2 linked regions of the Homo sapiens genome follow. The protein of the gene in region 1 purifies or fractionates together with the protein of each later gene. This does not show direct contact. Each region holds a gene or a part of one and is shown in the gene's direction. Other genes may lie near its edges.

What was found. The genes of interacting proteins can lie anywhere in the genome.
Region 2: the proteins of SCYL3 (region 1) and COPB2 purify together in Homo sapiens (affinity purification with mass spectrometry; 2 studies listed by BioGRID and IntAct, with this or other methods). This does not show direct contact.

The regions. Positions count from the first base shown.
Region 1 is NC_000001.11:169,882,728-169,892,058, reverse strand, and holds part of SCYL3 (protein-associating with the carboxyl-terminal domain of ezrin), read left to right. Parts: intron 1-3,168; 5' UTR 3,169-3,218; coding exon 3,219-3,383; exon of another isoform or gene 3,384-3,409; intron 3,410-9,331. UniProt on the Homo sapiens protein: May play a role in regulating cell adhesion/migration complexes in migrating cells.
Region 2 is NC_000003.12:139,358,648-139,365,647, reverse strand, and holds part of COPB2 (coatomer subunit beta'), read left to right. Parts: intron 1-3,130; coding exon 3,131-3,241; intron 3,242-4,352; coding exon 4,353-4,567; intron 4,568-6,285; coding exon 6,286-6,378; intron 6,379-6,469; coding exon 6,470-6,650; intron 6,651-6,835; coding exon 6,836-6,904; intron 6,905-7,000. UniProt on the Homo sapiens protein: The coatomer is a cytosolic protein complex that binds to dilysine motifs and reversibly associates with Golgi non-clathrin-coated vesicles, which further mediate biosynthetic protein transport from the ER, via the Golgi up to the trans Golgi network.

The DNA.
Region 1 (9,331 bases):
CAAAGTTAACATGCTTTCAAAACAAGAAAATGGCATCCTTTCCAGTTCTCTCAAGAAATTGAGTCATCCCTTTTTAATTTTTAAGTGATTTTTTTAGTCTTAGACCTAAAATACAGTAAGAAAAATGAATTTTAACTACTTCCTAATGCTTTTATAACTTTGTTAATTATAGTGGAATTCATATGAAATCTAAGGTTAATAGCTATTGCAAGGCCAATGTTCCCACAAGGAAGTATTTTGCTATTTAGAAATAGCTAAGTAAATTAAATGTTCCTTTCTCTTGCCTCTGGTGACTGCCATTCATCAGCCAGAGCACTGACCCTGAATCCTGGTGGCAGTCTTATCTCCCATGAGGATTAATATTAACACTTAAATAAACAGCATGATTTCCTGCGAAGAAGATATTCATTAATATACAGTCCCTTATTCTCTGCTTTTCTCTTAATTGTGTGTTGATTTTGGAAAGCTGTGTTTTGTGGGTGAGAGAGAGACGGTCAGACTAGCTTCAGATACTTTCAAAGTAACACTTCTGTAACTCACTCTTCCAGTCTGACTGGCTTTTCAGGCAGGAGTTGGAGACCAAGTAGAGCTTTCTGCCTATGAAATGGCAATTAGTTTCAAAGAACATAGACCCATTCAAGTTACCTGAGGAAAAGGGGGCTGGTTGTAAGGGTGTCAATGGGATGTTAGGGTATCTGGGTGGAATTAGATTTGAGGCTGGGCTTCCGGTAGTCTTGAGATGGATAGTAGTAATGTGCCCCCTAAGTATGACTAAGCTACGGTCCCAGTGTTTGCTTTTTAAAATTTTACTACCAACTGACTTCCTCTGGAAAGTTTCTGACTTCATGTGGCTTTGGTTTGCCGTAGCTCCACCTCCACCTCATAGCATCCTTCTACCTTCGGCTATGCTTCTAATAGGCAAAAATTGTTCTTAGTTCAAATTCCTGGGGGAGACAATGATCTGGCCAGTTTATCTCTTCACTCAGGCCATGAAATTGATGGCTAATTTGTGAATTAACCGCCCTTTGGCCCAGGATAGGTACCTGCCAACATTAACTGTGCCCAAGAAGAGGTGGCAAGATCAAGTGCTAAGCATAATCCTCCCTACTCAGCAGGAGGTTGTGACAATCTGGCCAGCACTCTATCTCCAGAACAGAGGGATTAGCATTGTTGCTTTTACCCATGGTCCCACATAAACTTTTTATTTGTAGTCCCAGTAGAAAGGTGAATGTTACCATAGTTGCCATACTTGGCATTTCTTTTAGTACTGTTTTTTGCTTCTCTGTCATTTTTAAGAAAGATACATTGCCAGGTAGGTAGGAATTCAGTGAATTTGTTACAAAGCAGATTTAGTTCTTATTCTCAGCAACATTTTTAGATTTTGAAAATCTTCAATTTTAGATAGCTTTAGCCTTTATACATGTGTTTCTTATATAACGATGGTTGTGGATCGGTAGGCACTTTAAATTTTGTTCTAGGCATGTGTTTTGAGCAGCATTACATACCCAGTGTAGAAGGTGTTGTATGGAATTTCACCGAAGTGGGGAAAAATTCCAAGTAGAGGGTCAATGTGTAATGATTATTGAGTTTATATTTGTCCAAAGAATACAGATTTTAAACAAATTTTTAAAGGCCTACATAGAATTATTGGCCGTATTTGTAGCAGTTTGCTTTCTACATTGCCAGAGTTAGTAAGAACTCTATTTTCTAATTTTTATATTATGGTAAAGCCACCACTGAAAACTGACTGCCACAGATTTTTCAGACATACGTTGTTTGGCCTATATAGGTTTAGAAAACATTTGATTCAACATTGAAAAATATGGAGATTTCCACAAAACTATTCAGGCTCTTGGTTCCTCACGATAAGTGGCATGATCTGACAGTTCTGAAACTGCAGTCCTGGTTGGAACTCTGTGATAGCCACTGTCTTCAGAATGCAAGCCTCTCACAGTAGGTCCCATGCACGCACAGTAGGTCCCTCTGCCAGGCTGCCAGTACTGCTGGGGCACTGCACATTACCTGTTGTCACCCTGTGAGTTTGTATCCCTGTTGTCAAGAAAGCTGTTCATATTGTAGAAGATTTGGAAGGTGCAGGCAAGTGTGTGTGTATAAAATTACCTATAATCTGACCTTCCACTGGAAACCTCTGTTAATACTTCAACATATATTTTTCAAGTCTGTGTGTATGTATACATATATTTCTTTTCAAAACAACTTTGAGGCGTAATTGATACAGAATAAATGAAAAAAGTGTACAGTTTTATGTTTTGACATAATCACCCGTTACCATCATCATCATCAAGATAATGAATATATCCATCCTCCCAAAAGTTCCTCATACATCATGATAATCCTTTCCTCTCCCTTGATCCCTCTAACTGTGCCCCTTCACTAGGTGAGCACTGAAGTATTTTGTCATAGTTGCATTTGAATTCTGTGTATGTGTGGGCTTTTGTTTTTTTTTAGCAATTGAGATTATTTGAGATTCAGTTTTGCGGTTTCCCCTTTTTACTTAGGATAGCTTTGAAGAGTAGTGCGATCGTACTTTTTCTTATGTTTATCGTCATTTGTGTTTCTTCAATGAGTTGTCTGTTTTCTTTCCCATTATTGTACTGGTGTTTTAGTGTTTTACTTGGTTTATATGAGCTCTTCATTTGTTAATATGTTTTTCATCATATTAACAATGTTTTTCAACATATTAATATTAAAACCATGATTTTCCTCATTATAAGTATTCTCCAATTTGTATTGTTTTCCTTTATAATTTTAAGTTATTTTCTACATACAGAAGTTTTATTGTTTTTGAGTAATATTTTTACAACATTTTCCTTTGTGAGTGAGGATATACAAGTGAGTTAGGAAGTATGAATTACCTTATTCTATTTTTGATTGCCTTTCCACTCTGAAAGTTTGTATGTGGTGGAGTTTGGGGAGGGACAGTAACTACCTGTGACTATTTAGTAATGTGCATTTTCTCTAGAGCTGTTAGTTGTTAATTAACAACCATTGCTGGTAACTTGCAGAGCGTTTACCATTTTTACTGTCAAATGTCCTAGTTATGAGGATCAAAGAAACTAGTAGTTTGGGGTGGCTATGTCTGGATATCTCTTGTTGATGTTGCAGATAGGGATTTAATGTTTGAAATTGTTTTCTGTTTTCTTTTAGATCTGCTTGGCTTTGAGGAAGAGTGGCAGTACTGCCTCACTGCATAAGGGATGGGATCAGAGAACAGTGCTTTAAAGAGCTATACACTGAGAGAACCACCATTTACCTTACCCTCTGGACTTGCTGTTTATCCCGCTGTACTGCAAGATGGCAAATTTGCTTCAGTTTTTGTGTATAAGAGAGAAAATGAAGACAAGGTTAATAAAGCTGCCAAGGTACCATAATAGGTGACGACTTAATAGTTAGTACTTTTTACTATCTTGTTTTCTTTTAAAAAAATATGAAATTAGTAAAGTTCAAAGGAGGTAAGATCATAAGGACCAGTATTTTATTTATGTCCTTTCAAAACATTGCTCTTACTTCATGGGCCTATCTTCCATTTGCATGACATGGTCAGGTACCATACCTGTAGCCAAAAAACATCATAAAACTCAGTACAATGGCTTTTATCATCATATTTTATTTTTCTGGTGAGAAAGTTAGGGAGACATTTTTATGTAGCTAATATAAGATATAAGGAGCTATATAAGGAGTTAATCTCGTCTAGCAAAATGCAGTTAAGTATTGACATCATTCTGGAGGCTTCAGCTTCCTCCTTAGGGAAAAGATCCTTGTAGTTCATGCCTTATAATTGTTGCTCCAGGCAGAGGGTGCCAGTGCATTAGCATGCTGTCTGACACACTCAGGAGATCCTGGCCTCTTATCAGAAAAAATGATTTTACTGTGGAATGTAAGTCAATAAAATAACCCCAAGTGTCTTTTTGAATTAGGGAAAATGAAGGCATTAGTTGATGCTTCTTTGGATAGCTAGCACTTTGGAAATTTAGGAATTCAGATATATCATCTTCTAAAATGGAAAATGTAATTGTATTAGTAAATTAATTCTCCAGTGTTTATTCTGGTAGGCATGCTATTTTCAAGTTGAACTTGATATCTTGATTTTGTTAGAATTATAATCTCTATTACCTTGAGTCCCTTAGTTATCAACAGGTATGGAACATTGATGTCTGTTTCATAGGACTCTAAATTGTTTTTATTTTTTTAAAATGATTATAAAGGATTATATTAGTAATGGAATTTTGGTCTTCACAACAGTAATTTATTTGATGTTGTATTTTTGATCAAGCATGAAATTGTTATAAGATGGTTCCTAAAGAAAAAGATGGGTAACAGTTCTCTCGAGATGCGTGGTGGTAAAAAGTATATAGCTGGCTGTTTTCTTGCTAGGTAATTTTGCTTTTTGGTAGAACCACATTTTTGACTCTTTTTTTACATCATCTAGGTATTGTTAAGAATTTTTTATTGTGATTTTACAAAAGACAAAATGCCTTACTTCGCTTTCTTGTTCTTACAGTTAATGTCTAACATGCCTCCTGTTATTTTCATCTAATAAGATTGTGCATTTTTTTTAATAAACTATTATCGGCGAGGTACTAGAGACTTATCTTTCTTAGTATTTTTTTCTTTATAAGATTTTTTTAAAATTGTGTTACACTTTATGGTGCACGTACCAAGAAAATTGAATAACCTAGATCGAGTTTTTAAAGGAAAAAACAGCAAGACCACTCTCCATTTTTGAGGACTTCTGTGCTGAAGGAATTGCGAAGCTTGAGAGGGAAGACTTATTCCCCCTTAATATTCATAGATACCCTTTTAAGCCATGTCTGAGTCTTTGCACATAGTTCATCTTTGTCTCTTGTTAAGCCATTCTGTGGCTTTGAAAACCTCATATATGAATTTGGGAAATTTGAAATTGCAACAAAGTGATAACTTTAGATTCTCAGAATGTTTCTCATAATCTTAAAAAACTAGGTCATAGCACTTGAGAAATGTATGGCATTCGATGTGCTAGATTTTAGGAATTTGATGTCCTAGGTATCTGAAATACTAAAACAATATATTTAGCTTGCCTCACTTTCTCTAGAGTTTGGGTTGTTGGTCACACCTTTGGTAGTTTTAACGATTATTTCAAGCAGATATATAGTGTTTTCTGTTACTGGATAACAATATACACTTTCTTCACTGTTACAAGTAAAAAACAACAATCCTAGTATACACCAAGATGAAATGCAGGTATAAGCTCTGGCCACAAAATAATGTGAGAAATACTTAGTTCTATCTGACCATCTCATTTTACATTGAATTCATCAGCTATAATTAACAGTATAATTTGCTAACTGATGATGATGACTCATATATGTAAGCCTATAAACAGTGATAAATTCTAAGCCCGAATTTGGTTGCTGTAGTTTGCTGTAATCTAAGTGTTTAGTTAGGGCTTTGTGGTAAGCTTATTAAAGCTTATAAAAATGATTCTTGAGTGTCTTTATGCCAGGAATCACATTGGACTCTAAGAGTGGTATGTAGATGCTATATAAGTGCTCTATTTAGTATTGTTGGAGTCATTATGCTCTTCCCCATAATGAATTTGGGCTGTTGTGGAAGGGTTAGTCAATGTTATTTAAGAATGCACATTGTGTGGGCATAACAAGAAATGGAAGAGATGATGGCTATGCCCAAAAGAGCTTGCATTCTAATTGGAGAAAGCTGTTCTCCTCTCTCATACTGACTTTTTTTTTTGAGATGTAGTCTCACTCTGTTTCCCAGGCTAGAGTGCAGTGGTTCGATCTTGGCTCACTGCAACCTCTGCCTCCCGGGTTGAAGTGATTCTCCTGCCTCAGCATCCCACGTAGCTGGGATTACAGGCACGCGCCGACACACCCAGCTCATTTTTGAATTTTTAGTAGAGGTGGGGTTTCACCATGTTGGCCAGGATAGCCTCTACCTCTCGACCTCGTGATCCGCCTTCCTCAGCCTCTCAAAGTGCTGGGATTACAGGCATGAGCCACCGTACCTGGCCCATGGTTGACTTTTTAAGAAATTATTTTTTGCCCTTCATAATCAGAATCCAGTGCTCTTACGTGGCTTCTGGGCACTATCCACTCAGAAGAACTTCAGAAGTATCCCCCATGCCTCAGGTATGATGGACCCACCAGATGGAATGGCCAGCTACTTGCTCCCCACCACACCTTGCAGACTTCACGCTCTCCTTTTTCCTTGGATGTTAATAACCATCCAACCTGCCATTCTAAACTAATTATCTGCCAAAATCTCTAGTCTGAGCTCCAGATCTATATTTTCACTTACCTATTGAACATTTCCACCTAAAAGTTTTATCAGTACCTCAAATGCAAGCTCTACAGAATGGAATTTTTATTCCTTTCTCTTTCTGCATTTTATTGTTAGTTTATGATCTAACCTTCAGATAGTGGACATTTACAAAAAAAAAAGCATCTGCATTTTGTCTTAGATTTACATCTTCAGAGAAAAAGGAATAATATTTTTCCCTGAAGATCTTTGTTCTCTAGTTTAGGCATCTTGGTTATTTTGTTTACTTAACATATTTAACAGCGTGAAATTATGGCTTTGTCTCATCTAAAAGCCTGCAGGTGGATTTGGGCTGTAATGCTGAGTCAGTTAACTTTGCATAGTTCTCAAAGTGAAATAGCGAATCAGAGGCAGAACAACAATAAAAAGTTAAGCCTCTGAGGCTTGAATGAATTCTCTGGATAGCTGAATCATAACTGATTCCTGATAAAGGGGAATCATTTATATTTAGGGAAAGAATCTCATACTTAAGATCCCTGTTTGGGTGTAGAAAAATATCATCATTGATAAATTATATAATACTATTCATATTTAACAATAAAGGTCCTTACTCAGAACCCTCTTTCAGAGACCATCACCTAGGACAGTAAATGGGATGTAATAGGTATTCAATAACTTTGGGGAAAGTGCTTTCAAGACACTCATTCAAAAATAGTCATCTTTCTCTACTAGGGCAAGAGCCATTTATTTGCTCAACTGATGTTCATTGAAAAATATCCTAGTTACCCTTAGCAAGTATGTCTTGTTGCTATTCTTTAGAGCAGCAGAGGCTTGAATCAAAAAATGTCCTATTTGATTCTGAACTGCTAGCCTTTCCTGTGAATCTGTGTGCATAATTTATGCTTAATATTAAATGTACCAAAGGAGAGTGAGAAATAAGGTTCTTGCTAAGTTAAGTGCCTTGTTCAGAAACATGTAATGAGTCATTTCTTCTTCTCCTTCTTTATTAAACAAACAAGTACTCACTTTGCATCAAGAAAATTTCTAGGCATTGTAGAGTAAAACAATAAGCAGAAGAGAACATGAAAGATTTGGTTTGAAAATTATTTGAAATGATTCTTAAATGAAAATATGAGGGAGGCTACATAATTTTATACAGAAACCGTAGCTCAAAACACACCTGTAGGCCAGGCAAGGTGGCTCATGCCTATAAGTCCAGCACTTTGGGAGGCCGAGGTAGGTGGATCACCTGAGGTCAGGAGTTTGAGACCAGCCTGGCCAACATGGTGAAACCCCATCTCTACTAAAAACACAAAAATTAGCCAGGCATGGTGGTGGGCGCCTGTAATCCCAGCTATTCGAGAGGTTGAGGCAGACGAATCATTTGAACCTGGGAGGCGAAGGTTGCAGTGAGCTGAGAACACGCCATTGCACTCCAGCCTGGGTAACAAGAGCGACACTCTGTCTCAAAAACAAAACAAAACGAAATAAAAAAACACTTGTAAAAAATTATTCCCAGTTAACTGCACTCATTTAACCAACCTGCTAACACAATTTTTGGTTTATCTGGATCTTTGCTGTATTTATTAGTTTGTAATTGCTAGTTAAAGAAATTTTTTCTTCAATATTTTCTTAATTATTTTTTATTGAATTAACTCGAGGGTAACAACTTTCTTCCTAAGAATAAATAAATAAACCCTATTGGAGCTATTCCCAGAGTTGGCAAAATTTGAGATTATTATAAGAAAATAAAAGAAATTGGAGGCTGGGCACAGTGGCTCACACCTGTAATCCCAGCACTTTGGGAAGCCGAGGTGGGTGGATCACAAGGTCAGGAGTTCAAGACCAGCCTGGCCAACATAGTGAAACCCCATCTCTACTAAAAATACAAAAACAATTAGCTGGGTGTGGTAGCGGGCGCCTGTAGTCCCAGCTACTTGGGAGGCTGAGGCAGGAGAATTGGTTGAACCTGGGAGGCGGAGGTTGCAGTGAGCCAAGATTGTGCCACTGCAATGCAGCCTGGGTGACATAGCGAGACTCTGTCTCAAAAAAAAAAAAAAAAAAAAAATGTAATTGGAGAAACCAACCCACTGAGAAGATTTTCCTATGACCCTGCCTGGAAGTAGTTTAATAAAGTTTGAGGCATCTGATACAAAAATTATACCAATGCAGGGTATGGATTCTTATGCTAGCCCATAGTCCTCCAAGAAGGTGTTCAGTATTCACTGCTTATTTATGAAAATGCCACCTGGTAATATATTGAGGGTTATCTTCCAAATGAAATATTTCATCACTCTCCTCCCAATCTGATTGGACAGGGCTTCCTCAGTGATTGTATAGGGTAGACCCTAGAGCTTTAATATCATGTTAGGACCTAGAGGACATTATGTTAAGTCAGGTGTCCCCAACCCCTAGGCTGCAGACTGGTACTGGTTCGTGGCCTCTAGGAACAGGATGGCACAGCAGGAGGCTGTGGGCAGTGGGCACGCGAGCATTACCATCTGAGTTCTGTCTCCTGTCAGATCAGCAGCAGTATTGTGTCCGGAATTGGTGGGTTCTTGGTCTCACTGACTTCAAGAATGAAGCCGCGGACCCTCGCGGTGAGTGTTACAGTTCTTAAAGGTGGCGTGTCTGGAGTTTGTTCCTTCTCATGTTCGGAGTTTCTTCCTTCTGGTGGGGTTCGTGGTCTCGCTGGCTCAGGAGTGAAGCCGTGGACCTTCGCGGTGAGTGTTACAGCTCATAAAGGCAGTGTGGACCCAAAGAGTGAGCAGCAACAAGATTTATTGCAAAGAGCGAAAGGACAAAGCTTCCACAATGTGGAAGCGGACCTGAGAGGGTTGCCACTGCTGGCTGGGCAGCCTGCTTTTATTCTCTTATCCGGCCCGACCCACATCCTGCTGACTGGTAGAGCCCAGTGGTCTGTTTTGACAGGGCGCTGATTTGTGCGTTTACAATCCCTGAGCTAGACACAAAGGTTCTCCACCTCCCCACCAGATTAGCTAGATACAGAGTGTGGACACAAAGGTTCTCCAAGTCCCCACCAGAGTAGCTAGAT
Region 2 (7,000 bases), on another chromosome or scaffold:
GTTTTCCTGCTCTCATCATGGATTTCCCCTCACCATCATGTTGGGGCTTCCTTTGCTTCTGTCCTGTTGGATCCATTGTTTCTTATACCCCTATCTCCTTTCCTGCTTTGCTCCCTCATTTTAGGGGAACATGCCCTTCAGCAATTTCCTGAGAAAAGGATTGTTAATGAGAGATAAATTGTTTTGTGACTTTGAATATCTGAAAGTGCCATTGTTCTACCCTAAAACATATTCAACCATTTAACTGGTATATAATTGTTGGAGGTAATTTTCTCTCAGAATTTTGAAGGCATTGTTCCATTGCCTTGTAGTTATTGTTGAAGTCTAAAGCCATTTTTATTCCTCATTCTTAGTACATGACCTGGTTTTTCTCTGTGGAAACTTTCTGAATGTCATCTCTGTTGTACTGAAATGTTATAATCATGGTAGGCCTTGGTAGGAATCAGTTTTCATTAATTCTGCCAGTTATTAGATGAGCTTTTTTAATGGGAAACTTATGTCCTACATTTCTGAAGGATTTTCATGAATCGTTCTATGGTGATATCCTTCGTTTTCTGTATTCTGTCTTTCTGGAATTGTTCATGTTGTATGTCCTGCACTGATTTTCCTATTCTCTTTTAAAATCTTATTGTTTATAGATAAAAGTTTCTCGTATCTTTCTACAGATATGAATGATATATTTCTGTTTTTAGATTTTGAAGTTTTCTCTTCCCCCTATATGGTATGCTTCCTTCACGTTCCTTTTATTGCTTCATTTTGATCTGCATCTTTGCTGTTAGTGATTTTCCTCAAGTATCTGATGTCCTTGGGCCCTCATTTAAGAGTGAAGGTACAAGAAACAGATCAGAAGGTCTGAATTTGTGGGTGGGGCATATTGGGTTTGGATTTCACAATATCTGGTGTGGTTGGCCCATTTGATTAGGGAGTCTCAATGTCAGTATCTTTAGCCAATGAATTTTTGATGACTTTCCATTTATGTAATGAATTTAACAAGCACTTAACAATGTGCTAGGCACTGTTCCTGCTGACATGTAGCCTTCATGGAGTTGACATTTTAGTATTTTTAAGTCTTTTCCCTTGGGCTCAGTAGATTTTACTGAAAAGCTCCCCAGTCACCATCATTTTGGGGTCTCAGTAGAAGATACCTTGGAGTCTCAGTATTTAATATTTCATTGAGTCTGTGTATCCATTTTCATAATCTCCTGTCTTCCTTTGATACTCTGTACTTTTTCCTCCAAGTGTGCTTGGAATCTCCTGGTCTGGAGACTCTTTAGTTTGTCCTCTCCAAAGAATAAACCTGTCTTCTTTGTCATGAGGTGGGAGAGGGGAGGTGAGAGAGGGGAGGTGGGAGAGGGGAGCGGATCTAGAGTTTCTGAATGCTTTTAGGGCAGTTTGTTTGTTTTTAGCCCTACCATTCATGAGACACACTGGGTGTAAATCACATTGTTTCTATGCTGTTCTCACTCCTGATTTAGGATCTGTTTTCTCTACTGTTTTAACAAAATGTTTATATTCCTCCACCAGCTTTCCAGCTTCCAAACTTTTGTTACTGTTTCCTCTCCCTTTCTGTGTGTCGTTGGGAGCTTATGCCTTTAAAAAAAAATCCTTTTAGTGTGATTTTATTAGTAGTAGGGAATTAGCAGAAAACAAAAGTATATATTTTAGTCCGCCTCATTTCATGTGTTTTGCCCTTGGCTGTATCTGACTAGTTCCAGAGATCTTCCATCCTCCACTCTTGGGTTTTATGTTATCTATATCAATGCTAGTGGAAAAAAAGTAACTCCGGTTATTTAGAATGCCTTATTTACATCGTATTCATGGATGGATCGGGGCGGGTTGGCAGCCTGTATAAGCTGAGAAGTTAAAACATTTCAAACTTGATGATAAAGCCATCCTGAAGATATAGCCAGACAGAACCCTAAAGCTGTCCAGCTTCTCAATCTTGACTATCCCATAAATGAGCATTCTCCCTCAGTCTGGTGAAGAGGTAAACTATCCCTGAGCTTTTTGTGTAACACATTACATCCCTAGAGCTAAAAATGACCCCATCAGTAGTGTTTGTCTTGAAGGAGAAGCTAATTTAATAATTACAATAGTTGATTTAAAACAGTGGTCCCCAACCTTTTTGGCACCAGGGACCAGTTTCGTGGCAGATAGACAATTTTTCCACAGATGGGAAGGGGGTACATTTCAGGATGAAACTGTTCCACCTCAGATCGTCAGGCATTAAGAGTCTCATAAAGAGCACAGAACCTAGATCCATCACATGTACAGTTCACAATAGGGTTCATGCTCCTATGAGAATCTAATGCCGTTACAGGCGGAGTTTAGGCGGTAATGCTCACTCACCCACCCACCCACTGCTCACCCTCTGCTGTGCGGCCTGATTCCTAACAGGCCACAGACTGGTTGTTTGGGAGACCCCTGGTTTAAAAGCTTGTTCTTAATGCCTTAATGGAGCATGGGAAGGAAATTTTAGACTTCCTGTCTTTTGGATACTTGCTGAGGAACTGGACTTGAGACCAACAATAAAGGAATAGGTAATGACACCTAATTGGTGACTGGACCTGAATACACAATGTTTGCTATGACCTACAGATGACAGAAAGTTGGAAGGTTTTATATTTGACTCCCGTTTCTTTGGCCATTTACTGCTAATAGTCTCATCTGCAAAATGAGGGGTTGGACTAGATGATCTCTACTTCCCAGCCTAGTTGAGTAGATTACCAACAGCTAAGTTTACACTGCTGTGCCTAGTTTTCTTCTTTTGAAATGATTCTTGTTTAGTCAACTTTGCAAAATTCCTTTCTTTTTGACATATCTGTTTATATTTACATTTCCAGTTTTACTGGTTACTTGAGTTTAACATTAGCCAGCTTCCATTATCCTAATAAACAGTAAGAATTCTGTCACTGAATATTTTATCTGCCAGGTTTGTTCTTACCACTTCCTTTAATGACTCCTTAATTATTCCATCTTCTTATTAAATAGTGGGGTTTCTAGTTTGAGAGGGAAATGATTTGCTCTGTGAATGTGTGTACACTGTATATGTGTGTGTATATATATATATATAAAACATACATACATTTTTGTATGCATAAATATATATAATTTTTAAAAATCTGTTTAGGGCTTCAAGCAGCAAGCTCTTACAGTATCCACAGATCCTGAGCATCGTTTTGAGCTTGCTCTTCAGCTTGGAGAGTTAAAAATTGCATACCAGTTAGCAGTGGAAGCAGAGGTATGTACTAATTCATGATTTTTCATAACTGATGGAAAAGTCAGTAGGTACTTCTATGTGTTTGGTGTAATGTTTTGTTATTAAAGTTTTCCCAAATGCAAATTAGTGGCTCATTTTGTTGAAGTTATTGTCTCTCTCTTATCTTTTTAAAAGATGTATTATGTTAAACTTTGCATAAGTTAAATTGATTACATTGGAGATATTCTTAGCACTCTAATTTGTTTTAAGAAAAATTGTTTTCATATCTTATGTGAGCTCTATTTTGCAAGATAAGAAAAGATGTAAAATAGTATGTAAACTAGTCTGGAAAGCCTAAGAGTACAGACATAGCAGTTATTTGCCAATGTCTGAAACTAACTAAAAATATGTTGGTTTTGAAAGACAGCCCAACCCCCTCATCTTTTGGTGTTGAATAGAGCAGGCAGTCAGAGAAGGACAGTGCTGCCTTGGTGGCACTCACCTTCAGCAGCAGATGCTCTTAGCACATCTGGTCTAAATGTTTGAGCTAAATGAGCTGTTCAGGGAGGCTCAAGTGGGAGAAATGTTAATACCATTTTTGTAATGATATTTTTATAGATCTTTGTATATTGAGGCTCCCAATTGTTTCAGACTGGCATTTACTGGTAAATTAATTTCAGATGTGCAAAATAAATTTTAGCTACGTTAAGATCATCTAAACATGCAGCATTTTGAGTTCTGAAAAGCTACAAGTGAGACATAATATTATTGTGAAATATTTAAAGACGTAGTTTTGTATGCTTTCAAAAAAGTGATATTAAATCACTTGTTAAAATAATTGCAGTCTAATTGCCTTAAAACTCCAGTGAGATGGTTTTACTTTCCCTGTGTAATTATAAGATAAAAGTATAATGGGTTGACGATAATTATTTGCACATCATTAAAATTGATTTGTGTTTAAATTCATTTTGTATACATTAATAATTTCCATTTCCTCACTGTACATTTTGCAATGCCATTCTTATTTTGATAGAGCCAACTTAACAAACACAGCTCTTTTTATAAACATTGTCTGCACAGTTAACAGAATAATGTTGGAAATGTAAATGCTTATTTCTAAAGATATTTTAACTTGGAAACTCTTTTCTTACAGTCAGAACAGAAGTGGAAACAACTTGCTGAACTTGCCATTAGTAAATGTCAGTTTGGCCTAGCCCAGGAGTGCCTGCATCATGCACAGGATTATGGGGGCCTGCTGCTTTTGGCCACTGCCTCTGGAAATGCTAATATGGTGAACAAGCTAGCAGAGGGTGCGGAGAGAGATGGCAAAAATAATGTGGCATTCATGAGCTACTTTTTACAGGGCAAGTGAGTATTAATTTAAAAGATTAATTAATTCTACACTGAGGATGGTTTTTGGAGAGGGAAGTGAAGAATGAACCCTGGAGAGAACTGATGAATGGCCAAATGGTGTTGAATAGACGGGGCAGTCAGAACAGGACAGTGCTGCCTTGGTGGCACTCACCTTCAGCAAGGGATGCCCTTAGCACATCTATCTAAATGTTTGAGCTAAATGAGCTGTTCAGGGAGGCTCAAGTGGGAGAAATGTTAAACACCTTCTTCAACAGCCCTGCCAGTTAATGGTGGAAGCATTTTATTTTATGATTGCAGGAGGCTATTGAGCTGCTCTAGTAGGTACCTGAAGGGCAGGTGATTTTACCCAAATTGGATAACTTTGATCCATTTATGGCAAGAACAAAAGGGGATAAGTATGCCACTTACTTGTAGATTTGAGCCCACTATAAAGCATAAAGATGTCTCATATTTTTAAGTCTAACCGAGTTAGCATAAACCAAATCATTTGGACATTAGTTGGCAGTATTATGAAATAAAACACAAAAGTATTCTTTCCTTTTTTTTTTTTTTTTTTTGAGATGGAATCTCACTCTGTTGCCCAGGCTGGAGTGCAGTGGCATGATCTCGGCTAATTGCAGCCTCTGTCTCCCTCGTTCAAGCCCTTCTCCTGCCTTAGCCTCCCAAGTAGCTGGGATTACAGGCATGCGCCACCACACCCGGCTTGTGTTTTTAATAGAGATGGGGTCTCACCATGTTGGCCAGGCTGGTCTCAAACTCCTGACCTCAAATGATCCGCCTGCCTCGTCCTCCCAAAGTGCTGGGATTATAGGTGTGAGCCACCACGCCCAGCCCGAAAGTATTCTTTAACCTTCTCCTACATACTGATTTTTTTTTTTTTTTACAATCCCATACTTCGCCATATAACTTTGAACGTGCACCCCATTGTATGTATGTGAATGTATTTATGAATTTATATACCTGTAAGAATAGACCCTATTCCTTATCCATAATTCAAAAATCCAAAAATATTCTGAAAACAGTTATAACTGTTTTGATGGCAAGACCTGAGCTGAACTGCTTTAGTATTTTTAGTTGCTTTTATACCAACTTGGTACATTTTTATTGCATTTAACATTCCTATGTAAGTTATTGCAGTATTAATGTTTGTGGCTTTTTCATGCTGAGGATGTAAGGTAATACATAGTATACATACTGTATCACCTTTCGAAAATCCAAAAAATCCTGAATTCTGAAACATATTGTCCACATCATAAAACTTGCACAGAAAAAAAATGAAATTAAAATAGAAGAAAAAATAAGACACCATGGTATTCTGCTGGGCACCACTGGCTTGTCTGGCCCTTCCCATGTTGGAGACACTGCCCTAGATATTTGTCTTGTGGAACTGAATTTCTGCTGGCATATATCCTTATGCCTTTAAAATTTGCTAATCTAACCTGCCTTAACTCCTCTTGAAAAGCCCCTTTAGGTTCTTAGGAATTATAATAATTAAGTTAAGTAGATTCAAAGTAGTCAGGAAAGCTGTCTTATCCCTCATACCCTTGCAGTGTGTTGATTAACAACCATTAAAAGACAAGTGACAGAAATGAGATATATGTGTGAAGATTGGGGAGATTTTTGGCTTTGTAACACTAAATTTACTTTGTGTTAAGTACCCATTATTATAGTGTTTATTCTTGGTAACAGTACCTCTCCTTTTTAATGTTTAGGGTTGATGCCTGCCTAGAGCTCTTAATTAGAACTGGACGGCTGCCAGAAGCTGCCTTCTTGGCCCGAACTTACTTACCCAGTCAGGTTTCAAGGTACAGACTTTTAATTTTAGGAAGAAATGTTTCCAATAAAAAGAGAGCACATTTACTTAGTCTCTCTTTGGTTCCATGATGTCTATAATAGGGTAGTGAAACTCTGGAGAGAGAATCTCTCAAAAGTCAATCAGAAAGCAGCAGAATCCCTTGCTGACCCAACAGAGTATGAAAACCTGTTCCCTGGATTAAAAGAAGCCTTTGTTGTTGAAGAATGGGTGAAGGAAACACATGCTGATCTGTGGCCAGCCAAACAATACCCACTTGTCACGGTGAGTGGCCAGGATGTCAAGCTTCATTTATTGTAACTACAGGGTGGAAGTACATTCAGGACTTCAGATTTTGAACTGCTGTCTTCTTTTAAAATTAAGAGCTGATATCTGGGATTTAGGCCAAGTTCATAGGTAAATTATGATTTCAGAATATCTCATTTCATCATTGCTTTATTCTCTGATAGCCAAATGAAGAGAGAAATGTCATGGAAGAGGGAAAAGACTTTCAGCCCTCAAGATCTACAGCTCAACAGGTCAGTAGAGCACTTCATGTGATAAATTTGGCTGAGATGGTTCACTTTTTTTTTTTTTCTTTTGAGACAGAGTTTCGCTCCATTGCCCTGGCTGGA